Homo sapiens: one gene and its partner. The protein of the gene in region 2 purifies or fractionates together with the protein of the main gene of each other region. This does not show direct contact. Each region holds a gene or a part of one and is shown on either strand. Other genes may lie near its edges.

The links. Proteins that work in one complex are often made in the same cells at the same time.
Region 1: the proteins of IQCF2 (region 2) and PASK purify together in Homo sapiens (affinity purification with mass spectrometry; one large-scale study listed by BioGRID and IntAct). This does not show direct contact.

What each region holds. Positions count from the first base shown.
Region 1 is NC_000002.12:241,138,592-241,143,044, reverse strand, and holds part of PASK (PAS domain-containing serine/threonine-protein kinase), read left to right. Parts: coding exon of another isoform or gene 1-12; coding exon 13-208; intron 209-2,291; coding exon 2,292-2,524; intron 2,525-2,989; coding exon 2,990-3,160; intron 3,161-4,250; coding exon 4,251-4,391; intron 4,392-4,453. UniProt on the Homo sapiens protein: Serine/threonine-protein kinase involved in energy homeostasis and protein translation. Phosphorylates EEF1A1, GYS1, PDX1 and RPS6.
Region 2 is NC_000003.12:51,859,570-51,864,915, forward strand, and holds IQCF2 (IQ domain-containing protein F2), read left to right. Parts: upstream 1-2,045; 5' UTR 2,046-2,097; coding exon 2,098-2,115; intron 2,116-2,288; coding exon 2,289-2,381; intron 2,382-3,417; coding exon 3,418-3,801; 3' UTR 3,802-3,855; downstream 3,856-5,346.

The DNA.
Region 1 (4,453 bases), on a different chromosome or scaffold from region 2:
TCCCTTCTTCCCATGGAGGACGGGGGCTTAACAGCCTTTGAAGAGGACCAGAGATGCCTTTCCCAGAGCCTCCCCTTGCCAGTGTCAGCAGAGGGCCCAGCTGCACAGACCACTGCTGAGCCCAGCAGGTCGTTTTCCTCAGCCCACAGACACCTGAGCAGAAGGAATGGGCTTTCCAGACTCTGCCAGAGCAGGACAGCGCTCTCTGGTAATGACCTTCGACCACTGCAGGCCTTAGCGCGTGGAAATACAAATGTGGAGTTGCTCTGTGTTCTCATGGAAACCCTCTCACCAGGGATTGAAGTCACTCTATTCCTGCAGAGAAAAGTTCGTGGTTTAAGTGCTCGGCTCATGCTGGCAGATGACTCCGGCAGGACCCTTCCTGCTGCTTTTACTCTGCTGTGATTCCCAGGCAGCTGGCGCTTCTTTTCAGGCAGCAGGTGGAACTCACCTTCACATTTCAGGGTCAAGTTACAACAAAATGTTATTTCTTACTTTAGAGTATGTGAGAACGCTGTTCTAGGTTAGGCTATTTTACTTAGGGAATTGCAGCTTTGCTCGTGCAGTTTACTGAGCTAAACGCGGTTTAGCTGGTGGACCAAGAATCATGGGGCAGAAGTCTGTTGGTGCCTCCTATGTCCAGATTCCGTTGGTGCCTCCTTTGTCCAGGCACCCCAAAGGACTGGGCCATGGTGAGGAAGGAAGCGTCACTTGCCTTTCAGGGGCTGTCTGATGGAGGCACTTGGGGAGACAGCAGGCTGTGTGCTTGAAGTTGGGGTAGACCTGGAAAATGGGGAAGTGGGGCATAGAGCTGCGGGAAATGGTGGCTGGGAGTCTGGTCTCCAGGTCAAGGAGCACTTCGACACTGGAGTAGGAGGGTGTTGGAGCTGAGCTTGTGCACTGGAGTGTCTGAGGGTGTAGAGCGGAGGGCCCTGTGGAGAGTGCCCAGGATACTGCAGGGAGGGGTGGGCTGGGAGGCACACAGCGCCCTTGGGAGTGGGCTTCACCCAGGCGCTGATCAGGAATGTTCTCAGTGAGTGTTGACAGGTGTGTTCCTTTTTTGGAGCATCATTCTGGTGGCTGCATGAGGAGCAGGGGTGGGAGCCGGAGGTACAGGGCCTTGAGACATGAGAAGGAGCTGCGCTTGGTGACTGCTGTCTGGGGAAGAGCAGGGGCGAGAGTGGCTGGATGGCCACGTGGTTTCCAGCCTCAGAGAATGGTCGGGGTCAGGCCACTCACTGAGAAAGTCAGGGGTCCTGGCTGGAGGACATGGAGGGGAGGGGATGGGAGAGAAATGGAAGGGTCAGGTCTTGAGTGCTTGGTTTTGAGCACTGGAAGAATGTATCTGGTGTCTCCAGAGATGGGGAAGCAGGCGAGTGGGCCGTGGGAGGTCCAGGCTGGAGGTGCGAGTGTGAGAGTCTTCAGTGCATTTCTAATTAGATGTATTTAAAGCTACCGAGGAATGGGTGAGATGGAGCCAGGGTCACTGAGAGGTGGGAGGTGGGGGAGCCCAGGTGCCCGAGGAGGGTGGTGTGGGAGGAGGGTGAGGCCTGAGGAATGACGGGGCTGAGGGTTTTGGGAGCCATTGGAGGCGTTGCTGAGAGAACGCTGCACAAGGAGCTCTTGAATCGTAGGAACGCTTCCAAGGAGGAGGTGACGGGGCAGCCACCGGAGTGGCCATGGGGTCTTGGAATGACTGACAGAGGACAGAAGGTGGGAAGGAAGGAACCTTTGAGTGTAATTAAGCTTTTTTGTTTTTTGGGACAAGGTCTGACTGTTGCTCAGGCTGGAGTGCAGTGGCGCAGTCATAGCTCGCTGCAGTCTCAAACTCCTGGGCTCAGGCAATCCTCCTGCCTTAGCCTCCTGAGTAGATGGGGCTGCAAGGGCACGCCACTATGCCCAACTGATTTTTACAAATTTTATTTTTAGTAGGGACAGGGTCTCGCTGTGTTGTCCAGGCTGGTCTTGAACTCCTGAACTCAAGCAACCTTCCTGCCTCAGCCTTCCAAAGAACTGGGATTATAGGCACGCCTGGCTTTGAGTGTAATTTAGACACAGAAGTGTTGATCTTATGCTGTTTGTGCTTCCGAGTGGACCTGGTGGTTGCCTAAGTGGATTCTGGGGACCATGTTCAGACACGCAGTGAGAGTGTGTGTTAGCTGTGCAGACTGACTTAATCCTTAGATCTTTTTGCAGGAGTTGAGGGCAAGGGCTGTGTGCTTTGCCTGTTTCAGAAGGTGGACTCTGGCAGCTGTGTGAAGTCTAAAGCTTCGCTTCGCTTCTCTTTTCAGAAGACAGATGGAGCTCCTATTGTCTATCATCACTGGCTGCCCAGAATATTTGTACAAGTAAACTGCACTGCCCTGCTGCCCCTGAGCACACGGACCCGTCCGAACCGCGGGGCAGTGTGTCCTGCTGCTCCCTGCTGCGGGGACTGTCCTCAGGGTGGTCCTCACCTCTGCTTCCGGCCCCTGTGTGCAACCCTAACAAGGCCATCTTCACGGTGGATGCCAAGACCACAGAGGTATTTGCTTCTCTTTTAGATCCAGCTGTGTAGATGTGGATTTGTGGTTTGTGCCTTAAACCTGGGATTTGTGTGTTTTAATGCAATTAGAAAAACATTTGGGCACTTCGGGAGGTGGGAAGTTTGCTTGAGCCCAGGAGTTCAAGACCAGCCTGGGCAACATAGCAAGATCCCATCTCTACAAAGAAATTAGCCAGGTGCGGTGGCACACACCTGTAGTCCCAGCTACCAGGGAGGCTGAGGCAGGAGGATCACTTGAACCCAGGAGTTCAAGGTTGCAGTGAGCTCTGATTGCGCCGCTGCAGTGAGCTCTGATTGCGCCACTGCACTCCAGCCTGGGCAACAGAGTGAGACCCTGTCTGTCAGGAAAAGGCTGGCTTCTGCATGGTCGTCCTGGGCTGTTCTGGGCAGCTGGTGGAGCTGCTGGGGATGTCTGCATCCTTGCTCCTCTTTGTGATTCCTCAGATCCTGGTTGCTAACGACAAAGCTTGCGGGCTCCTGGGGTACAGCAGCCAGGACCTGATTGGCCAGAAGCTCACGCAGTTCTTTCTGAGGTCAGATTCTGATGTGGTGGAGGCCCTCAGCGAGGAGCACATGGAGGCCGACGGCCACGCTGCGGTGGTGTTTGGCACGGTGGTGAGTGGATGCGGGTGCAGCGTTCAGTCTGGCCTCAAGACCAGCAGTGTGTGGCAGGAACAGCTCAGTGTTCCCTACCAGGAGCTCTGCTGGGGGTTGGGTGGCACCAGGACATCTCAGCTTCTTCAGCTGAAAATGTCATCCCAGGCGCCGTTTCCCCGCTTCAGCTGCAGTGGGGGTGGGGGCCCTTTAAGAACGAATCATCGCAGGAATGGACACTGTGGCTGTGGCTGGACTCCTGGGAGGTGTCGTGGGTGGCCCTTGCTTTGTCTGAGGGCTGTAGCTTCACTAATGTTTTGCAGTCCTGCCGGGCAGCACATCAGATGCTCAAGAGTAATATGGTTTTATTGTCTATTGATTTTTACATTCTGTTTGGTGTTTGTGGGAGCGGGCGGGGGTGTTGGCCTGGAAGCATTTCCCTAGACAGTGTTGATTCTCTCACCTGTGCCATGTGTCCAACCTGGATGTTGACAGGTGAGCTGAGTTGGATGTGGAGGACTGAGCCCAAGGCATGGAAAAAGCCCAAGGCATGGCTGATTGTAGGGTTTCCCCTCGTCAGCCGGTCGGGGACTGGGGGAGTAGCGTTGGAGGGCAGTGGAGGTTGGGGTATGATCTGAGGCTCTAGTAGTCATCCAGATCCTCCAGGTTGCCTGTTTCCCACCTAGTGTGTGGCTTTCACACAGAAGACCCCATTGCTTGAACTGAACTGATGTCACAGGCTTAGGACCAATTGTATCAGAAAATCACTGGTTCAAGAAACTGACTACTAAGAAGAAAAAAACTAAGATATTCACCATGTGTTGGTGTCTGTTTCTTTAAGAAATAACAGATACTGCTTTTTTCACCCTGCAATATTACCATGAACTGAGAATGAAATCTACTCTCTTGATAAAACTTGCACTTGGAGATTTTAATGTTCAGTATGGGAAATCTTGTTTGTGCTTTGGTAAATTTCTGAAATGAAAATCAGGTAAGCAGAAGTTGAAAACGTTGCAGTGCCTGGAGTTTGGGCCTCCTGGAGGCAGGTGCCCCACCCATACTGGTCTTTTGGGTTCATGGCATGCAGGTGTGAACCTGTCTGTTTCCACAGGTGGACATCATCAGCCGTAGTGGGGAGAAGATTCCAGTGTCTGTGTGGATGAAGAGGATGCGGCAGGAGCGCCGCCTATGCTGCGTGGTGGTCCTGGAGCCCGTGGAGAGGGTCTCGACCTGGGTCGCTTTCCAGAGCGATGTGAGTGTGCAACTTTGCCTCATGTCTCATGGACGCTGGAGCCGGCGTCGTTCTCCTCTTCA
Region 2 (5,346 bases):
ATCTGCTGACCTTCCCTCCACTATTGTCCTATGACCCTGCCAAATTCCCCTCTCCAAGAAACACCCAAGAATGATCAATAAAAAATAAATTAAAAAAAAAAAAAAAGAAGTTTAAGAAGACCTAAATAAAGACATCTGTGTCTGTAGGTTAGAAGACTTAATATTGCTAAAATGACAATATTCCCCAAATTGATCTACAGATTTAGCATAATCCCTATCAGAATTCAGCTGACTTCTTTTGCAGAAATTGACAAGCTGGTTCTAAAATTCATATGGAAAGTCAAGGGATTCAGAATAGCCAAAGCAATCTTGAAAAAGAAAAACAAAGTGGGAGGGCTCACACTTCCTGATTTCAAAACTTACTACGAAGCTACAGTAATCAAACTGGTTTGGTACAGGCACAAACACAGACATATAGGTCAGTGAAATAGAATAGAGAGTCTGAAAGAAACCCATATATCTATGGTCAATTTAGTTTTGACAAGGGTGCCAAGTCCATTCAATGGGAAAACAATTGTCTTTTTGACAAATTATGCCAGAACAACTCGACATCCACATGTAAAAGAATGAATTTGAACCTAGCCTCACTCCATACACAAAACTTAAAATGGATCAAAGATCTAAATGTAAGAGCTAAAGCTATAAAACTCTTAGAATTTTAAATCGGCCAGGTATGGTGGTTCACACCTGTAATCCCAGCACTTTGGGAAGCTGAGGTGGGAGAATCACTTGAGCCCAGGAGTTTGAGACCAGCCCAATCAACATAGTGAGACCCCATATCTTAATAAATACATACTTTAAAAAATAAAAGAACAAAAAAATGAAAAAAATAAATAGCCAGGCATGGTGGTGTGTGCCTGTAGTCCCAGCTACTCAGGAGGCTGAGGTGGGAGGATCACCTGAGTCCAGGAAGGTCAAGCCTGCAGTGAGCCAAAGTTGCACCACTGCACTCCAGCCTGGACAACAGAGTGACACCCTATCTCCAAAAAAGAAAAAGAGAGAAAGAAAATCATTTTCTCTTAGTGTTCAAATTTGTCACCATCAATATTTCCTTGTATTTATTTAAATTTCCCTGTGGCTATTTCACCTTTTTCATTCCACTTCATTCTCTTGATTACCCAGGTTGGTAAACTGTGTATCTTTAAAACTGGTCTTGTCAGAATACTGCCTTTTAAATTTATTTTCCACTACCCATCTTTGTTTTCTATGCATTAATTTAAGTTTTGATCTTTATTTGACTGCTTTCCAGATTCATCTGGTGTATCTTTTTCTAGTTTCCTAAGGCTTTGTGAGGCACCGAGTCAAGGGAAGAGAGGAAGTGCTAAATCTCACCAGACGCTAGAGAGTGATATGGGGATGCACCGTCATGGTCCTCCCTGCTTTGCCATGCTGATGATAATGAGAAGGGACTGTGGATGGACTTCACATGAGGAGAGCCCTGCTATGGAATGGCACTCAAGTGCTCTATTTTTCCACCCTCAGCTCTGACACATCTCTGACAGGAGGCAAGCAGACACATGGTACTGAGGAGAGAGGCCATTTCTCTTACTGTCTCCTGTCTCTGAAGAGAATGAGGAAGTAAAAGCTGAAGAACAACAGGAATGAAGTCAGTGGCAAGACCAACTGGTGCCACTGACCAGACCTGAGATTGAAAGATTAACCCTCCCCACCCCCAACTCTAACCACATGTGCTCTCAATCTATCACAACACTTTCACATGGACCCCTTAGAGTTGAAAGCCCTAAAAAGGGCCAGGTTTCACATGGACCCCTTAGAGTTGAAAGCCCTTTAAAGGGCCAGGAACTCTTTCTTTAGGGAGCTCGGTTCTTGAGATGCAAGTCGGCCAATGCTCCCGGGGGAATAAAGCCTCTTCCTTCTTTAACCCAGTGTCTGAGGGGTTTTGTCTGCAGCTCATCCTGCTACAGTACAAGTTCCCCTGGAGTTTGTTTCTGACAGAGACACATCTCTGTGGCAGATGTCCCAATCCCTATGTCATAATGCAATTGTGAATTCAGAGCTCTCTCCTCACTCACGTTACTCATGCCAGACCTTGGGAAGCAGAGAAATCAGGGCTAATGAACCATCTAAGGACAGGCCATGAGGGTTCGATTTTGTGTAAGAGACATGGCCAGATCTATTAGGTGGACCAGGAATGGGTGGGTATCTCCCTGGGCTTTACAGGACTTGAGAAAAGAGAGGATGTTAAAGTAGTAATTGTCTTTGTATAGAGCCATAGAGAGAAACAGTCTTAACTCATTTATGTACTTCCCATTTAATTCTGATGACAGACCAAAGGCAATTTAATTTTGGTTATAATTGAGGATGTTGAAGAAAGCATTGAATGGAAGACATTGCAGAAGAAGAAACAGCAGAAAATCAAGGTGAGAAGAATTCCATGTACTTAAGAGAAATCCAGAACATTTATAACTACATCATAAGGTGTAGGACTTTGCCTCTTATCAATCCAGGGTCTAATTAGGAGTCAACTCAATGTTGGCTCATTTTTCCTCCATTCTCTTCTCAGTCTGGGCTGTCTGGATCTGGGCCTGACTGAGATATTGAGAGTGATTGGAAAGAATGAAAGCCTTGGGAGGCCGAGACAGGCAGATCATGAGGTCAGGAGATTGAGACCATCCTGGCTAACACGGTGAAACCCCATCTCTACTAAAAATACAAAAAATTAGCCGGGTGTGGTGGTGAGTGCCTGTAGTCCCAGCTATGCTACTCAGGAGGCTGAGGCAGGAGAATGGGTGAACCCGAGAAGCGGAGCTTGCAGTGAGCCAAGATCACGCCACTGCACTCCAGCCTGGGCAACAGAGCGAGACTCCTTCTCAAAAAAAAAAAAAAAAAAAAGAATGAAAGCCATCAAGAAATGCATAAGGCTGAGAGGTGAGAATGTGAGAACTTGGAATTAGAGAGTAGACTGTTCAAAATATGGAAAGACTTGGAGTAGAATATGTGGTCAGGGTATTGAAAACCTACCATAGTATCAAAATATGGTCATAGCAGACAGAAATCAGCCAGTGGTGGTTTGGGGCTGGAATTAGCAGATAATTACCAGGCAGAAGGTTATGAGGCCTTTCCAAACCCAGTGAGCACCAAAGAGGTGAGTGTGACTAACAAGGTCCCACACATCCCTATTGCACCCTTCTAGTTACTAATGGTTTTTCCCTTGATCCATGCACTGCAGAAATAGTCTGCAGAAGAACTCTGTGACTCTAAGATTGAAGTGATGTGCCCACAGTGGCAGAGGAAGGTCACCACCAGGTCTGATGGCTCCTAGTCAGTGTCCTGCTAACTTCCCTGAATTCTGAGGAAGGGCTGTGTTTTGAGAGAGAAAATCCAGGCTCCTTCCAGGAAGATCCTAGAAGTTGGTGGCAGGAAGTTTTCTGACTGATCGCTCTTGTCTCTGCCTAGGAAAAACTTAGAATAAGAACAAAAGCAGCTGTAAAGATCCAGGCCTGGTGGCGGGGCACCCTGGTGCGCAGGACACTGCTGCATGCAGCCCTCAGGGCCTGGATAATTCAGTGCTGGTGGCGGATGACGCTGTCGAGGGTGCTGGAGAAGAAACGGCAGGCAGCTCTGATCGCCTACGCAACCAGAGAGAGGGCAGTGATCAAGCTCCAGTCTTTGGTCCGTATGTGGCGTGTCCGCTGGCGATACTGCCAGGTGCTCAATGCCATCTACATCATCCAGGGCCACTGGCAATGCCACAACTGCCAGACCTGCGCTCTCCTCCAGGGCCACTGTGTGGTCACAGCCACTCACCTGCAGTTCCACATTGAGATCATCAACTCCTAAGGGCTGGCAAGAAGGGCACTGTGTCTACTGTCCCTATTAAAGGTCTAACCTGGTCTGGTGTGTCTCATGGGCTCCCCCAGCTAATGGGATTCTTGAGACTTGGACCTTGCTGCCTCCTCTTCTCCCTGAGAAAGAATTTCAGTGAGGTTTGCCCCCTGTGTCCAAGGACCCTGTTTTGGACTGACAATGGCCATAGGAAGCCCCAGTCTGCTCTGATATATGACAGAGCCAGAAATCCCAGTTCCCATCCCCAGCCTTATTTTCTTCTCACCGGGGGATCTGGGAGGCAGTTGGGCTCCATCTTCCTGAAGATTCTGGGCACCTCTGCACATATGGATGGACTATTGGGCCCTGCTCTGTCAACCTAGAATCAAGGTCGGCTGGGGTTTGGGATGCCTCAGTTTCCTCTTTGGCAAGCACCTAGATGGAAAGGCAATATTTGGCTGATTCTCCTGGGAGCAATGTAGTGCAGCCCCAGGTGAAGGATAAGAGGCTGGCCTTACTGGTAGGTGGGGCTGGGGCTAGGCATGCTAATGATTAGGTGGTGACCCTAAGGACTAGTGGAAAACAGAAGTTTACAGAAGTTCATCTTTTCTCTACAATTTCCTCACTAGAACTCGTCTCCCCAAGGGCCAGGTGACAAACAGGGCTCCCTCTGATATTACCCCCACCCCTACTCTTATCTCAATTATTGGTGATTTTATCATTGGTCAAGATGACCCTACAATCTCCTCCATTCTAACCTCAAACCTTTTCTGCTCTTCTCCTCAGCTATTCACTCCCACAGTCATACCAAAACAATGCTATTCTATGGAACTTCTGTGATGATGGAAATCTCTCTCTATGCTGTCCAACATAGTAGCCACTAGCCACATATAGTTGTGGTGCACCTGAAATGTGCCTAGTGCAACTGAGGAGTTGAATTTTTTATTTTATTTAAATTTAAATAATCATTGGACAATGATGCTCTAGACCTCATCATCACCAATAATTGTACTATTGCTCAAATTGCTTTTTCTAATTTTCCATTCTTTGATTACTTTCTTCTTTCAGTTCACCTTTTCAATAACCCCAATATTTCTTCAGATATGATAAGGTCTTCCAGTTTATTGATGCTATCATTTTTTTACAGCCACCACCCCTGACATGCTCTTGCATGTTTCTTTACCTAGTGCAGATTCCATGGTTAATTATCATCTCTCCCCTGCACTACCTCACTTCCTTGGCCCACTTTCTTTCTGCAAACATGTATGAGATGAAGGCAACCGTCTCCCTGTTCCATGCCTACAGAATAAGGGAACATGGCTGGGACAAAACCAACAACCATGAGGCATGGTCTTCATTTATATTCATGACCACATATATCAACTGGACTAATTTCCCAATGAATTTATTTAGTATGTTTGCATTTATATTTTCCGAGTTGAATAATTTACACCACCTCCTCTCCAAATGTTTGTTATTTCGGTTGGAATAAATGGTGTCAGAAATGAAACCTGAAAAAGAACACTATTGGAAGGGATTGGCAATTCTTGGAACTGGTGT